Regions from separate parts of the Homo sapiens genome. Here region 1 is linked to region 2. Evidence: fine-mapped expression QTL. Tissue or cell type: atrial appendage. Region 2 holds a variant in brackets; the other region holds the start of a gene. All regions are shown on one strand. Distances are between the middles of the regions.

Region 1 (8,143 bases), 51 kb after region 2:
GATTACCTTGGTTTTAACTTCTATTTTGTACTCAGCTGTGGTTTTGGTACCAACAAAATAGAATCATGACTGGAATACGCTCTCTAGATGAGCTCTTTGGCTAAAAATTAGATTAATATTCAGAGATTTCCAACATGTTTAGCTGAGCTGTTAACTTATCACATGTGGCACAACATTTAGCATACAGAAAACATAAGCATTTCTACTTACCACTAAGATCATCTATGTGGTTATAAGATACATTTAGTCTAGTCAGATTAATTAGTTCTTCAAGTCCTAAAAAAAAAAAGTAAAATAAAATAAAGCCTTTATAAAATTTAAATAATTAATTACAGAGATATAGCATTACAATGTTATTTCAGACTGTTCTGAAGTAAATCCAGTCTGGTAACAGCGAAATCAATTTTATTGGCATTTAGAAAAAACAGAATTTTTAAAAAATTGACACTTTTTTGGAGAAAATATTTTGTATAATGAGTTTCAGACTCAATTTTTAAGAGTTTCTGATATTTATTCCATTCTTTTGGGGAAAAAAATGGACCTAAATCATTTTCCTTACGCTAAGTGTTAAATGAAAATCACTTACAAACCTTCTACTTTTGTAATCAAATTGCAGGACAAATTTAATGTGCACAGTTTTGTCAGTGTGTTTAGTCCTTCAATTCTACTTATTTGATTAGATGACAGATCTAGATGTTGTAAATTCCAAATATGATCAATGGCTTCGATCTTGGAGATGTTATTGCAATGAAGATTGACGGCATGAAGAGTTGAATCTAAAGATAATTCTGATATGCTATAAAAGAAAATATATACTATAAAAATAGATTTTAAAAGCATGACCAAATAACTAAAATTAACCAAACAGCACGTAGATACTAAATATGTGCTCTATTCATTCTAGAATGAAATCTTTCCTATTTGTGGTACCTTTGAAATGTCTCACAAAACACGGTGCTTCTTACAACACAACCAAGTATTTTGGATTATTTATACAAACAAGAAACCGCTCAAGGCAGGCAAGTGACAGTGGGCATTTCTAACTCCTGTGTGCAGTCATCAGCATATATTGAAGGCAGTGCTGAATAGTAGTCAATAACTGTAAAGGCTTTGGAATGTTAATATCCCAGTTTGAATCTGCATTCTATCACGGTTTTGCTGTGTGATTTGAGCAAATGACAACCTGAGCCTCAGTTTTCTTACCTCAATTAATTCTCACAATAACTCTAAGCAGTGGGTATCTTAAGGATACCTAAATTTATGGAAATTAAATAGCTTGCCCAAATTCTTGCAGCTAACAGAGCATATGTAAATCCAGATCTCATGCTGGAGATTATAACTTTATTTTCTTCTTTGTGTGCAATAGCTATTTAATCCACAGTCTATTGCATTTTCAAAAACAAACCATGTTATTGCAATTCCTATTGAAAAAGTCCCTGTCCTCCCTTGTTGAAAGTTAATGGATCTCCCCTAAACAGAACTCATCTCTTCACTCCAATTACTATTTATAACTGAAGCTTCTCCTGAAGATAGTAGTTCCAGGAACACAAACTACAGCATACACAGTTTGGAGTTGCTAGATGGGAGATACACCCAGGAACACACAATGTCACGGGCATCTGCTGTAGGTTGAGTAGCAGCTATCTTACAGCTGTAGGAAACCTAACTCTGACAGCAGGGAAGCATTTGCAAATTTCAAACTAGCAACCTTTAAATGTGACTATCTGGGGCATTTCCCACTTATCCTGCTGTGTCATTTACTTGAGTTCTTATTTAGTGCCAGACCTTATGCTGTTAACACATGCTCTTAATGACAGTCATTTACTTTCTGACACATTTCAGTTTCTCGACATTAATAATGTGCAGATAATGTGAGATAGAAAAAGCATAGTGAAATTAGACGGAAAATGGGTTTGAATCCGAACTTAATTCTTCATGAAGTGTATAAAGATGAACAAATTGTCAATAGATTCTGAGTCTCATTCATCACTTGTAAATGAGAAAAATTACTACCTTGTAGAATTGCTGTGAGGATTACTGATAATGTATATAACATGCACACAACAGATAGCATTCAGTAAATGGCAGCTAGTATTAAATAGAAATGTAAAATGTCCCTTGAACAGCATCTTCTTGGGATCATCTGGCAAAGTTTAAATCAGAATCCAGAACAAGATGCTTAATTATCAGTAGCAGAGTTCGCGTAGAGGACACGCTACAAAGGAACAGCATGTGCAAAGGCACAGAGAAGTCTGCTATGGAATTGCCTGTAGCTCAGTACAGGTAAATAAAGTGTAAGTGGAGAAATGTTACGGGTCGAGACTAAAGAGCCTGAAATGCAGGTGGAGACCTGCTTTACAGTATTACAGAACCAAGTGCCTCATATGCTTTGCACAAGTCAGGGCTTCAAGAGAGAGGGAAACGATGAACTAAATATAGTAAGTTTAGTACTTTCAAAAAGTATATGAATATATGTATTGCAATGTTCTGTAACGGACAAATGATTTCGAATGCAGACAAGGAGAACTGAGGCAAAACTAACAGGCAGCAGCGACTGCCCGCTCATAGCTGCCAGAGATACTATCCTGCAGGTTTTTTTCAGAGGTAAGAACAGGAAAGACGAGAGAACACGAGAAAACCAGCAATTAAACGGCAAGCAAAGGAATAACCACCAGTAAGTAAGGAAAACCAGCAGAAGGAAAGAGTGGTCAGAAGCTGGTGGAGGACAAGGTCCTGGGGCAGTTTCTAGGCTAAGCAGAGTCGTGTGAAACGCTGGGCAGGAGACACGGGCGGGAAGGCATCCACGGCTCATTCAACCTGGCACTTCGGCAGGTAAGTTTTGGAGGAGCGGGGAGGCCGAAAGCCAGACTGCGTTCACTTATGGTCTTGGTAAAGCAGTGCCGCGCCTCCACTCTGGTGTCGCCGCCAGCCACTCGTGGCCCCGGCTCTGGGGAGTGCGCGGGTCGCTCCTGGCTGCGGAGCGCCCTTTACCTCTGCAAGCCTTTGTCCATGAAGCATACATCCCCGCAGCTGCTGTCGCCGTCTTCGTTTTCCACTTCCGCCTCTGCCGCCACCACCGCCGCCGCCGCCTCCATAGCACTGGCGACGGGGAGCGGGGTCTTAACCGGCACCCAGCGAGGGGTCCGTGAGCTTGGGACAAGCCTCCCGGAAGCGCGGAAGGGCGGCCCGAGGGGGCGGGGCGGGGCGAGGACCCACCCTCCAACCGACAGCCGGGAACTTTCCCGCCTTGACGGTGACGCAAAACTGGAATCCTCGTCCCAACTGTGGGCTTCTTTCGTTTTTACAGCATCTGCGGTGCGACTCTTGAACTTGCTGTAAAGTAAAACTGCTTCCCGGGCGTGTAGGAGCTGGAGAATGAATGGATTTGTCCTGTGTGCTTCTGTATATTTGCCTAGTAGCCGACTGACTTCTGAAGGCGGTTTTCACAGCGGTTTGGCTTTACGTGCCTTTACATAGCCTTACATACGTATAAATTGTTCCTCTGGCCATTGCACCTCCTGTTGATTCATTGAACAATTTGTGGGATGCCTTACTGTATGTCAGTCACTTCCCTGTATGAGGAAGAAAAAGATGAAGCCTATTCTTGTTCCTGGAAACATTCGCAGCCCCATAGAGGAAACAGAATTGCCATACAGTATGACGAATGCTAAGAATAACACAAGGGCATCGAAACCAACTCTAGAGTGATATGGGTAGTGGGTACGTTTTCTAAAAGAAGTGATTGATGACTGAATAGAGTCTTGCTGGGTTAGGGGGAGTTCTGGATGAATGGCATTACAGGTGGGAAAGCAATACCTGTGTGAGGTCAAATAACCCTCCTGGCTAGATTGCTTCCTAAGGCATAGTAATATTTTAAAACGGAGCAAATGGTGCAGTAGTCCATTTGAAGTGGACTATTTCCTTTTGAAATAACTCATATAGACAAAAATAAAAAAGATGTTTTAAAAAATGAGCAAAACCCACATGACATGTAGGACACCATAAAGTGACCAAATATTCAAAATTTTGGAGTCTCAGAAGGCAAAGAGAAAACAATAGAGTTGGAAAAATGGTTCAACAAAATACTATATGAAAACTTCCCAAGTCTAGCAAGAGATTTAGACACCCAGGCACAGGAGGCCAAAGGTTCCCAAACAGATACAATGCAAAAAGGTTTTCTTTTAAAAAAAATTTCATCTCACTTTTTATTTTAGATTCGGGGGTACATGTGCAGGTTTGTTACATAAGTATATTGCACGATGCTGAGGTTGTGGCTTCTAATGATCCTGTAACCCAAATAGTAAATATAGCGCTTGATAGGTAGTTATTCAACTCTTGCCTTCCCCCTTTTGGAGTCCCCAGTGTCTATTGTTCCCATCTTTGTGTTCATGTGTATCCAGTGTTTAGCTGCCACTTGGAAGTGAGAACATATGGTATTTGGTTTTCTGTTTCTGTGTTAATTCACTTAGGATAATGACCTTCAGCTGCATCCATATTGCTGCAAAGGACATGATTTTGTTCTTTTTTATGGCTGCATGTTGGTGTATATGTGCCACATTTTCTTTATCCAGTCTATCATTGATGGGCATCAGGGCTCATTCCATGCCTTTGCTACTGTGCTGCAATAAACATATGAATGCGGGTGTCTTTTTGGTAAAACAATTTATTTTTCTTTGGCTAGATACCTGGTCATGGGATTCCTGGATTGAACGGTAATTCTATTTTTAGTTCTTTGTGAAATCTCCAAACTGCTTTCCACAGTGGCTGCAATTTGCATTCCCACTGATGGTGTGTAAGCATTACTTTTTCTCTGCAACCTCACTAACATCTCATATTTTCTGACTTTTTAATAAAACCCACTCTGACTGCTGTGAGATGATATCTTATTATAGTTTTGATTTACATCTCTCTGATTATTAGTGATGTTGAGCATTTAAAAATATGTTTCTTGGCTGCTTGCATGTCTTCTTTCGCAAAAAAGAAAAGAAAAGAAAAAGTCTCCTTTATGGCCCATTGTAGTCAAACTGATAAAAGTCAAAGACAAAGAATTCTAAAAACAGCAAGAGAAAAACATCTAGTCATTTATAAGGGAACCCTCAACAAACTAACAGTGGATTTCTCACCAAAAACTTTACAAGCCGGCAGAGAATGGTATGATAAATTCAAAGTGCTGAAAGAAAAAACAGCCAGCCAAGTACTCAACAAAGTTATCCTTCATAAACCAAGGAAAAATAAAGTCTTTCCAAGATAAGCAAAAGCAAAAGAATTCATCACCAGTCGACTGGACCTATAAAAATGCTCATGAGAGTCTTACATATGGAAACAAAAGGACAATATTTACCAGCATGAAAACACACAAAAATATAAAGTCCACTGGTAGATCAAACACACAAGAAAGAGAAAGGACTCAAATGTTACCATTACAGAAAACCACCAAACCACAATCATAAACAATGATAGAGAAGGAAAGGAACAAGGAATACACAAAAATAACCAGAAATGGATTAATAAAATGACAGGAATAAGCCCTCACGTATCAATCATGACCTTATGCAAATGGAATAAATTTTCCACCTGGAAGATATAGCTTGAATTAATGGATTAAAAAATGACCCAACAATAGTCTGCTTAGAAGAAACTCATCACACTTGTAAAGACACATATGGACTGAAAGTAAAGGGAAGAAAAAAGATATTTTATGCAAATGGAAACCAAAAGCCAGCAGGAATAGCTATATGAATATTAGATACAATAGACTGTAAGTTAAAAATAGTAAAAAAGAGACAAGAAAGGTCACTATGTAATGATAAAGGGATCGGGCACAGTGGCTCATGCCTGTAATCCTAGCACTTTGGGAGGCCGAGGCGGGTGAATTGCCTGAGCTCAGGAGTTTGAGACCAGCCTCGGTAACACGGTGAAACCCCGTCTCTACTAAAATGCAAAAAATTAGCAGGGGCTGGCTGCGTGTGCCTGTAATCCCAGCTACTCAGGAGGCTGAGACAGGAGAATCACTTGAACCCGGGAGGTGGAGGTTGCAGTGAACTGAGATCGCACCACTGCACTCCAGCCTGGGCGACAGAGTTAGACTGTCTCAAAAAAAAAAAAAAAAAATCAATTCAGCAAGAGGATATAACAATTCTAAACATATATGCACTCTACACCTAGGCACCCAGATGTATAAAGCAAATATTATTAGATTTAAAGAGAGAGAGAGAGATTCCAACAGGATAATAGTTGGGGATTTAAGCACCCCATTCTCAGTATTACATAGATCATCTAGACAGAAAACAAACAAACAAACAAAAAACATTTAATTTAAACTGCACTTTATACCCAATGGATCTAACAGAAATTTGCAGAAAATTTCATCCAAGAGCTAGAGAACGCACATTTTTCTCATCAACATAGGGAACATTCTCCAGGACAGACTACATGTTAGGACACCAAAAATGGCTCAACAAAATTTTTAAAAATAAATAATGCTAAGTGTCTTCTCAGACTCCATTGAAACAAAACCAGAAATCAATTACAAGAGGAACTTTAGAAACTGCACAAATATATGGAAATTAAAGAACATGCTCCCAAATTATTGAGCAAGAAAGAAATTAAAGAGGAAATCAAAAAATTTTTTAGACCAGTAAGAACCAAAACACAACATACCAACACCTCTGGGGTACAGCAAAAGCAATGCTAACTGGGAAGCTTATAGTAATTAATGCCTTTATCAAAAAAGTAGAAAGATTTCAAATAAACAATTTAATGTTACACCTCAAGGAACTAGAAAAGCAAGAAGAATCCCAACCCAAAATTAGCAGAAGAAAAGAAATCATGAAGATCAGAGCAGAGCTAAATGAAATAGAAGCTTAAAAAAATACAAAGGATCAACAAAACAAAATGTTTTTTTTAAAAAAATGATGAGCAAAATTGATAACAAACAAAATTCACTAGCTAGACTAACCAAGAAAAAAAGAAGATCCCAGTAAACAAAATAAGAAATGAAGAAGAAGGCATTAAAACTGATGCCACAGAAATACAAAAGAGTGTCAGAGACAATTATGAACAACTGTATGGTAATGAACTGGAAACCCTAAAGGAAATGGGTGAATTCCTTGATACATACAATCTACCAAGGTTAAACCAGGAAGAAATAGAAAACCTAAACAGACCAATAATTAGTAGCTAGAATCAGTAATAAAAAGTCTTCCAACAAAAAAACTCCAGGACTGGATGGCTTCATGCTGACTCCCACCAATTTTTCAAAGAAGAACCAAAGCCAATTCTCTTCAAGCTATTAAAAAAATTGAACATGAGGGAATTCTCCCTAACTCATTCTACAAGGCCAGCATTACATTGATACCAAAACTAGACAGGGATGCAAAAAATAAAGAAAACTACAGGCCAACATCCCTGATGAACAGATGCAAAAATCCTCAATGAAATCCTCAATGAAAACTGAATCCAACAGCACATCAAACAGATACTAGATAATCAAGTGGGATTTATTCCAGGGATGCAGGAATTGTTCAATATATGTAAATGAACACATGTGATACATCATATCAACAGAATGAAGGACAAAATCCATAAGATCATCTCAGTAGATGCAGAAAACGCATTAGATGAAACTCAGTCTTTTCATGATACAAACTCTCAACAAACTAGGCATAGAAAGAACATACTTCAATATAATAAAGGCCGTATATGAAAAACTCACAGCTAACATCATCCTGAATGGGAAAAAGTTGAAATCCTTTCCTCTAAGAACTGGAACAAGACAAGTGTGCCCACTTTCAGCACTCTTATTTGACATACTACTGGAAATTATAGCTAGACCAATCGGCAATATAAAGAAATAAAAAGACATTGAAATTGGAAAAGAGAAAGTCAAATCGTCCCTGTTTGCAAATGGCATAATCTTATATCTAGAGAAACTTAAGGACTCTACCAAAAAACTCTTAGATCTGATAAATAAATTCAGGAAAGTTGCAGCATAGAATTTTAACATACACAAATGTAGCATTTCTATACACTAATAATGAACAAGCTGATAAAGAAACCAAGAAGGCAATCCCATTTGCAATAGCTATAAAAATAAAAGACTTAGAAATAAATTTAGCCAAGGATGTGAAAGGCAGCTTTTCTC
Region 2 (8,204 bases):
CACTAGTCAAATTGGATTAGGGTCCATCAATATGACTTCATTGAACTTTAATTACCTCTTTAGAGGCTCAGTCTTTAAATACAGTCACATTATGAGGGGTGTTGGGGGTTAGTACTTTGTGAATTTGGGGTTACGTGATCAGCCCATAACATTATGGATCATACTTTTTCATGTCTAAAGAATCTTTGCCTAATCCAAGGGCACAAGGATTTTGTTTCACGTTGTCATCTTTTAAAATATACAAATATTTAATTGACAAAGTTGTATTATTGAAAGTTTACAATGTGATGATTTGATATACATTATACATTGTATATTGTTTACCACAATCAAATAAACACATCCTCATCACCCATAGTTACGTTTTTTTGAGTGTGTGTTTGAGGAGAGGTGAGGAGGCTTAAAATCTACTCTCTTATCAAACAATACAGTATTATTAACTAAAGTCACCATGCTGTACATCAGATCCCCAGAACCTATTCATTTTCTGAGTGAGAGTGTATACATTTTAACCAACATCTCCTAATTTACCCCAACCCCCAGCTCCCAGCGGCCACCATTATGTTCTCTGCTTCTGTGAGTTCAACTTTTTTAGATTCCACATAAAAGTGAGATCATACAGTTTTTATCTTTCTGTGTCTGGCCTTATTTTACTCAGTATAATGTCCTCCAGATTCATCCATATTGTCGCAAATGAAATAATTTCCTTGTTTCTTATGGCTGAATAATATTTCATTTGAATCTACCATTTTTTAAAATCCATTCATCCATCAGTGAACACTTATGTTGTTTCCATGTTTTGCCATTGTAAATAATGCTGCAATGAACATGGGGATGCAGATAACTCTTTGAGATACTAGTTTTATTTCCTTTGGATATATACCAAGAAGTGGGCCATAAACTTCTAAAAGTTTTATGGTCTCAGCTCTTACATTAATTCATTTTGAATTATTAAAATGATTGAATGCTTAATCTCTCTTTTCTCATCTTTTGGCTATCAACTGATTTGTGTCTTTGAGTCTAAAATGTGTCTCTTATAGGCAAAATATAGTTGGATCTTGACTTTTTAAAAAAATCTAGTCTGACAATCTCTGTTCATTGACTGGCATATTTAGATCAGGGATCAGCAAACTTTTTCCATAGGAGACTAGATAATACATATTTTAGACTTTTCACGGTGGTCTCTGTTGCACTCATTTAACTTTGCTATTGTAGCACAAAAGCAGCAATAGAATATATAAATGGATGCGTATGGGTGTGTTCCAAAGGAACTTTATTTTTCAAAACAAGCAGCAGAATTTGGCTTGCAGCCTGCATTTGCCAAGTCCTTGTTTAGACCATTCACATTTAATGTAAATATTGATATTATTGGATATACAGCTGGTACTTCATGATTTGTTTTCTATATATCTCCAATGGTTTTATTCCTGTGTTCTTACTTTATTCCCTTCTTTTTTCTGAAAACAGTTTTAGTGTATTATTCAATACTGAATTCTTGTTAAGTTTTTTCTTTATTGAGGTATAATTTACATACTATGTAATTCACTCATTTAAGTGTATAATTTATTGATTTTTAATATATTCAGTGCCCCCCAAAAAACTAAATGTTCCTTTCCCCTCAAACTCCCAGCCACTGGCAACCACGAATCAATCTACTTTCTGTCTCTATAAATTTGCCTATTCTGGACATTTGCATATTGCAGGTTGTATCAGTATTCATTTCTTTTTATTGCCAAATAATATTCCATTGTATGGATATACCACATTTTATTTATCCATTCATCACATGATGGATATTTGGATTGTTTCCACCTTTTGGATCTTTTGAATAATGCTCTTGTTAACATTTGCGTACAGGTTTTTGGGTGGACAAAATTTTCATTTCTCCTGAGTATGTAACTAGGGATGGAATTACTGGATTATATAACAACTCTATGTTTAACCTTCTGCTGAACTGCCAGAATGTTTTCCAAAGTGGCTGCACCATTGTATATTCCCACTAGCAGTGTATGAGGATTCCTATTACTACATCATTGTCAACACTTACTATTGCCTTTTATTTATTTATTTATTTTCATTTTGTTTTATATAATTTTTTTGAGACAGAGTCTCACTCTGTCACCCAGGCTGGAGTGCAGTGGCGCAGTCTTGGCTCACTGCAACCTCTGCCTCCCGGGTTCAAGCAATTATCATGCTTCAGCCTCCTGAGTAGCTGGGACTATAGGTGTGCATCACCACGCCCAGCTAATTTTTGTGTTTTTAGTAGAGAGGGGGTTTCATCATGTTGGCCAGGCTGATCTGGAACTCCTGACCTCAAGTGATCTGCCCACCTTGACCTCCCAAAGTGCTAAGATTACAGGTGTGAGCCACCACACCCAGACCAGTTGATTTTTTTATATGGTGTCAGGAAAGGGTACAGTTTCACTCTTCTGCATATGGCTAACTAGTTATCCCAGCACCATTTATTGAATAGGGAGTCCTTTCCTCATTGCTTGTTTCTGTTAACTTTGTCAAAGATCAGATGGTTGTAGGTGTGCAGAATTATTCCTGGGCTCTATATTCTGTTCCATTGGCCTATATGTCTGTTTTTATACAAGTATTATGCTGTTTTGGTTACTGTAGCTTTGTAATATAGTTTGAAGTCAGGTAATGTGATGCCTCTAGCTTTGTTATTTTTGCTTAGGATTGCCTTGGATATTTGGGCTCTTGGTTCCATATGAATTTTAAAATAGCCTTTTTAAATTCTGTGAAGAATACATTGGTAGTTTAATAGGAATAACATTGAATCTATAAATTGCTTTGGGCAGTATAACTGTTTTGACATTATTGATTCTTCCCATCCATGTACATGGAATGTTTTTCCATTTGTTTGTGTCATCTCTGATTTCTTAGAAGAGTGTTTTGTAATTCTCATTATAGAGATGTTTCACCTCCCTGATTAGCTGTATTCCTAGGCAGTTCATTCTTTTTGTGGCTATTGTGAATGGGATTGCATTCTTAATTTGGCTCTCAGCTTGGATGTTGTTGGTGTATAGCAATGCTACTGATTTTTGTACATTGATTTTGTATCCTGAAACTTTGGTGAAGTATCAGATTAAGAAGCTTTTGGGCAGAGACTATAGGGTTTTCTAGGTAAAGAATCATATCATCTTCAAACAGGGATAGTTTGACTTCCTCCATTCCTATTTGGATGCCCTTTATTTCTTTCTCTTGTTTGATTGCTGTGGCTAGCACTTCCAGTACTATGTTGAATAGAAGTGGTGAGAGAGGGTGTCCTTGTTTTGTTCCGATTTTCAAGGGGAATGTTTCCAGGTTTTGCCCATTCAATATGATGTTGGCTGTGGGTTTGTCATAGATGGCTCTCATTATTTTGAAGTATGTTCCTTCAATGTCTAGTTTGTTGAGGGCTTTTACTGATGGGAAGTTGAATTTTATCGAATCTGGGTGCTCCTGTATTGTAGGCAAATATATTTAGGATTGTTAGGTCTTATTGAACTGAACTTTACACCATCATGTATCGTCATTGTCCTTTTTGATCTTTGCTGGTTTAAAGTCTGTTTTGTCTGAAATTATGATAACAACACTTGGTTCTTTTCTGTTTTCCATTTGCTTGGTAGATTTTTCTCTGTCCTTTTGTGAGCCTATGGGTGTCATTGCATGTAAGATGGGGGTCTTGAAGATAGCATACTGATGGGTCTTTCTTCTTTATCCAAGTTGCCACTCTGTGCCTTTTTTAAAAAAAATTATTACACTTTAAGTTCTAGGGTACATGTGCACAATGTGCAGGTTTGTTACATAGGTATACATGTGCCATGTTAGTTTGCTGCACCTATCAACTCGACACTTACATTAGGTATTTCTCCTAATGCTATCCCTCTCCCAGGCCCCCACTCCCCAA[T/C]AGGCCCTGGTGTGTGATGTTCCCCAGCCTGTGTCCATGTATTCTCATTGCTCAACTCCCACATATGAGTGAGAACATGTGGTGTTTGGTTTTCTGTCTTTGTGATAGTTTGCTGAGAATGATGGTTTCCAGCTTCATCCATGTACCTGCAAAGGACATGAACTCATCCTTTTTATGGCTGCATAGTATTCCATGGTGTATATGTGCCACATATTCTTAATCCAGTCTATCATTGATGGACATTTGGGTTGGTTCCAAGTCTTTGCTATTGTGAATAGTGCCGCAGCAAACATACGTGTGCATGTGTCTTTATCATAGAATGATTTATACTCCTTTGGGTATATAGCCAGTAATAGGATTGCTGGGTCAAATGGTATTTCTAGTTCTAGATCCTTGAGGAATTGCCACACTGTCTTCCACAATGGTTGAACTCATTTACACTCCTACCAACAGTGTAAAAGCCTTCCTATTCCTCCACATCCTCTCCAGCATCTATTGTTTCCTGACTTTTTAATGATCACCATTGTAACTGCTGTGAGATGGTATCTCATTGTGGTTTGATTTGCATTTCTTTAATGACCAGTGAAGATGAGCATTTTTTCATATGTTTGTTGGCTGCATAAATGTCCTCTTTTGAGAAGTGTCTGTTCATATCCTTTGCCCACTTTTTGATGGGGTTGTTTTTTCTTGTAAATTCGTCTAAGTTCTTTGTAGATCCTGGATATGAGCCCTTTGTCATATGGTAGATTGCAAAGATTTTCTCCAATTCTGTAGGCTGCCTGTTCATTCTGATGATAGTTTCCTTTGCTGTGCAGAAGCTCTTTAGTTTAATTAGATCCCATGTGTCAATTTTGGCTTTTGTTGCCATTGCTATTGGTATTTTAGTCATGAAGTCTTTGCCCATGTGTATGTCCTGAATGGTATTGCCTAGGTTTTCTTCTAGGGTTTTATGGTGTTAGGTCTTACATTTAAGTCTTCAATCCACCTTGAGTTAATTTTTGTATATGGTGTAAGGAAGGGATCCAGTTTTAGCTTTCTACATATGGCTAGCCAGATTTCCCAGCACCATTTATTAAATAGGGAATCCTTTCCCCATTTCTGGTTTTTGTCAGGTTTGTCAAAGATCAGATAGTTGTAGATGTGTGGTGTTATTTCTGAGGCCTCTGTTCTGTTCCATTGGTCTATATATCTGTTTTGGTACCAGTACCATGCTGTTTTGGTTCCTGTAGCCTTGTAGTATAGTTTGAAGTCAGGTAGTCTGATGCCTCCAGCTTTGTCCTTTTTGCTTAGGATTGTCTTGGCAATGCGGGCTCTTTTTTGGTTCCATATGAACTTTAGCTTTTCCCAATTCTGTGAAGAAAGTCAATGGTAGCTTGATGGCGACAGCATTCAATCTATAAATTACCTTGCGCAGTATGGCCATTTTCACAATATTGATTCTTCCTTTCCATGAGCATGGAATGTTCTTCCATTTGTTTGTGTCCTCTTTTATTTTGTTGAGCAGTGGTTTATAGTTCTCCTTGAAGAGGTCCTTCACATCCCTTGTAAGTTGTATTCCTAGGTATTTTATTCTCTTAGTGGCAATTGTGAGTGGGAATTCACTCATGATTTGGTGCTCTGTTTGTCTATTATTGGTGTATAGGAATGCTTGTGATTTTTGCACATTGACTTTGTATCCTGAGACTTCGCTGAAGTTGCTTATCAGCTTAAGGAGATTTTGGCTGAGATGATGGGGTTTTATAAATATATAATCATGTCATCTGCAAACAGAGACTATTTGACTTCCTCTTTTCCTAATTGAATGCCCTTTATTTCTTTCTCCTGTCTGATTGCCCTGGCCGGAAGTTCCAACACTATGTTGAATAGGAGTGGTGAGAGAGGGCATCCCTGTCTTGTGCCAGTTCGCAAAGGGAATGCTTCTAGTTTTTGCCCATTCAGTATGATATTGGCTGTGGGTTTGTCATAGATAGCTCTTATTATTTTGAGATATGTCCCATCAATACCTAATTTATTGAGACTTTTTAGCATGAAGGGCTGTTGAATTTTGTCGAAGGCCTTTTCTGCATCTATTGAGATAATCATGTGGTTTTTGTCGTTGGTTCTGTTTATGTGATGGATTACGTTTATTGATTTGCATATGTTGTACCAGTCTTGCATCCCATGGATGAAGCCAACTTGATTGTGGTGGATAAGCTTTCTGATGTGCTGCTGGATTCAGTTTGCCAGTACTTTATTGGGGATTTTCACATTGATGTTCATCAGGGATATTGGCCTAAAATTCTCTTTTTTTGTTGTGTCTCTACCAGGCTTTGATATCAGGATGATTCTAGCCTCATAAAATGTGTTAGGGACAATTCCCTCTTTTAATAGAGATTGAAATTGTTTCAGAAGGAATGGTACCAGCTCTTCTTCGTACCTCTGGTAGAATTTGGCTGTGAATCCATCTGGTCCTGGACTTTTTTTTGGTTGGTAGGCTAGTAATTATTGCCTCACTTTCAGAACTTGTTATTGGTCTATTCAGAGATTCAACTTCTTCTTGATTAGGCTTGGGAGGGTGTATGTGTCCAGGAATTTATCCATTTCTTCTAGATTTTCTAGTTTATTTGCATAGAGGTGTTTATACTATAATCTCTGATGGTAGTTTGTATTTCTGTGGGATCAGTGGTGATATCCCCTTTATTTTTTATTGTGTCTATTTGGTTCTTCTCTCTTTTCTTCTTTGTTAGTCTCGCTAGCAGTCTATTTTGTTGATCTTTTCAAAAAATCAACTCCTGGATTCATTGATTTTTTGAAGGTTTTTTTGTTTCTCTAACTCCGTCAGTTCTGCTGTGATCTTAGTTATTTCTTGCCTTCTGCTAGCTTTTGAATGTGTTTGCTCTTGCTTCTCTAGTTCTTTTAATTGTGATATTAGGGTGTCGATTTTAGATCTTTCTTGCTTTCTCTTGTGGGCATTTAGTGCTATAAATTTCCCTCTACAAACTGCTTTAAATGTGTCTCAGAGATTCTGCTACGTTGTGTCTTTGTTCTCATTGGTTTCAAAGAACATCTTTACTTCTGCCTTTATTTCGTTATTTACCCAGTAGACATTCAGGAGCAGTTTGTTCAGTTTCCATATAGTTGTGCAGTTTTGAGTGAGTTTATTCATCCTGAGTTCTAATTTGATTGTGTGTCCAAAATTGGTGGGTTCTTGGTCTCATTGACTTCAAGAATGAAGCCGAAGACCTTTACGGTGAGTGTTACAGTTCTTAAAGGTAGTCTGTCCTGAGTTTGTTCCTTCTGATGTTCAGACGTGTTCAGTTTCTTCCTTCTGGTGGGTTTGTGGTCTTGCTGGCTTCAGGAGTGAAGCTGCAGACCTTCGCGGTGAGTGTTACAGCTCTTAAGGTGGCGCCTCTTAAGGTGGTGCATCTGGAGTTGTTCGTTCCTCCTGTCCGGAGTTGTTCGTTCCTCCTGTCCGGAGTTGTTCATTCCTCCAGGTGGGTTCATGGTCTTGCTGGCCTCAGGAGTGAAGCTGCAGACCTTCACGGTGAGTGTTATAGCTCATAAAGGCAGTGCAGACCCAAAGAGTGAGCAGCAGCAAGATTTATTGCAAACAGTGAAAGAACAAAGCTTCCACAATGTGGAAGGGGACCCGAGCACGTTGCCGCTGCTGGCTTGGGCAGCCTGTTTTTATTCCCTTATCTGACCCCACCCACATCCTGATGATTGGCCCATTTTAGAGAGAGCTGATTGGTCCATTTTACAGACAGCTGATTGGTCCATTTTACAGAGAGCTGATTAGTCCTTTTTGACAGGGTGCTGATTGGTGCATTTACAATCCCTGAGCTAGACACAGAGTGCTGATTGGTGTATTTACAATCCTCTAGCTAGACGTAAAAGTTCTCCAAGTCCCCACTAGATTAACTAGACACAGAACACTGATGGGTGCATTTACAAACTTTGAGCTAGAGACAGGGTGCTGATTGGTGCGTTTACAAACCATGAGCTAGACACAGGGTGCTGATTGGTGCATTTACAATCCTTTAGCTATACATAAAGATTCTCCAAGTCCCTACCAGATTAGCTAGATAGAGAGTGCTGATTGGTGCATCCACGAACCCCAAGCTAGACACAGAGTGCTTATTAGTGAATATACAATCCTCTGGCTAAACATAAAAGTTCTCCAAGTCCCCATCTGACTCAGGAGCCCAGCTGGCTTCGCCTCATGGATCCCATGCAGGGGCCACGGGCGGAGCTGCCCGCCAGTCCTGCACCATCTGCCCGCACTCCTCAGCCCTTGGGTGGTCGATGGCACCAGGGGCCGCGGAGC

What was found. PIP is the estimated chance that this variant, and not a neighbour inherited with it, causes the effect.
Region 1: LRRCC1 starts here. The variant in region 2 is fine-mapped to the expression of LRRCC1 in atrial appendage (GTEx, PIP 0.99). The same link has a PIP of 0.9 or more in whole blood.

Annotation. Positions count from the first base shown.
Region 1 is chr8:85,102,248-85,110,390 of GRCh38, reverse strand. It overlaps LRRCC1 (leucine rich repeat and coiled-coil centrosomal protein 1), which reads right to left and starts at 3,153. Exons shown (of 19, transcript NM_033402.5): 1 at 2,992-3,153; 2 at 591-796; 3 at 211-276. The coding sequence starts at 3,095. It overlaps LOC105375933 (a long non-coding RNA gene), which reads left to right and starts at 2,529. Exons shown (of 3, transcript XR_929117.3): 1 at 2,529-2,832. RefSeq lists an enhancer at 2,982-3,041.
Region 2 is chr8:85,152,954-85,161,157 of GRCh38, reverse strand. No RefSeq gene overlaps it. Among named protein-coding and RNA genes, the nearest start is that of E2F5-DT, 20 kb to the left of the region's middle. The variant T/C (reference allele first, on the strand shown) is at 3,899.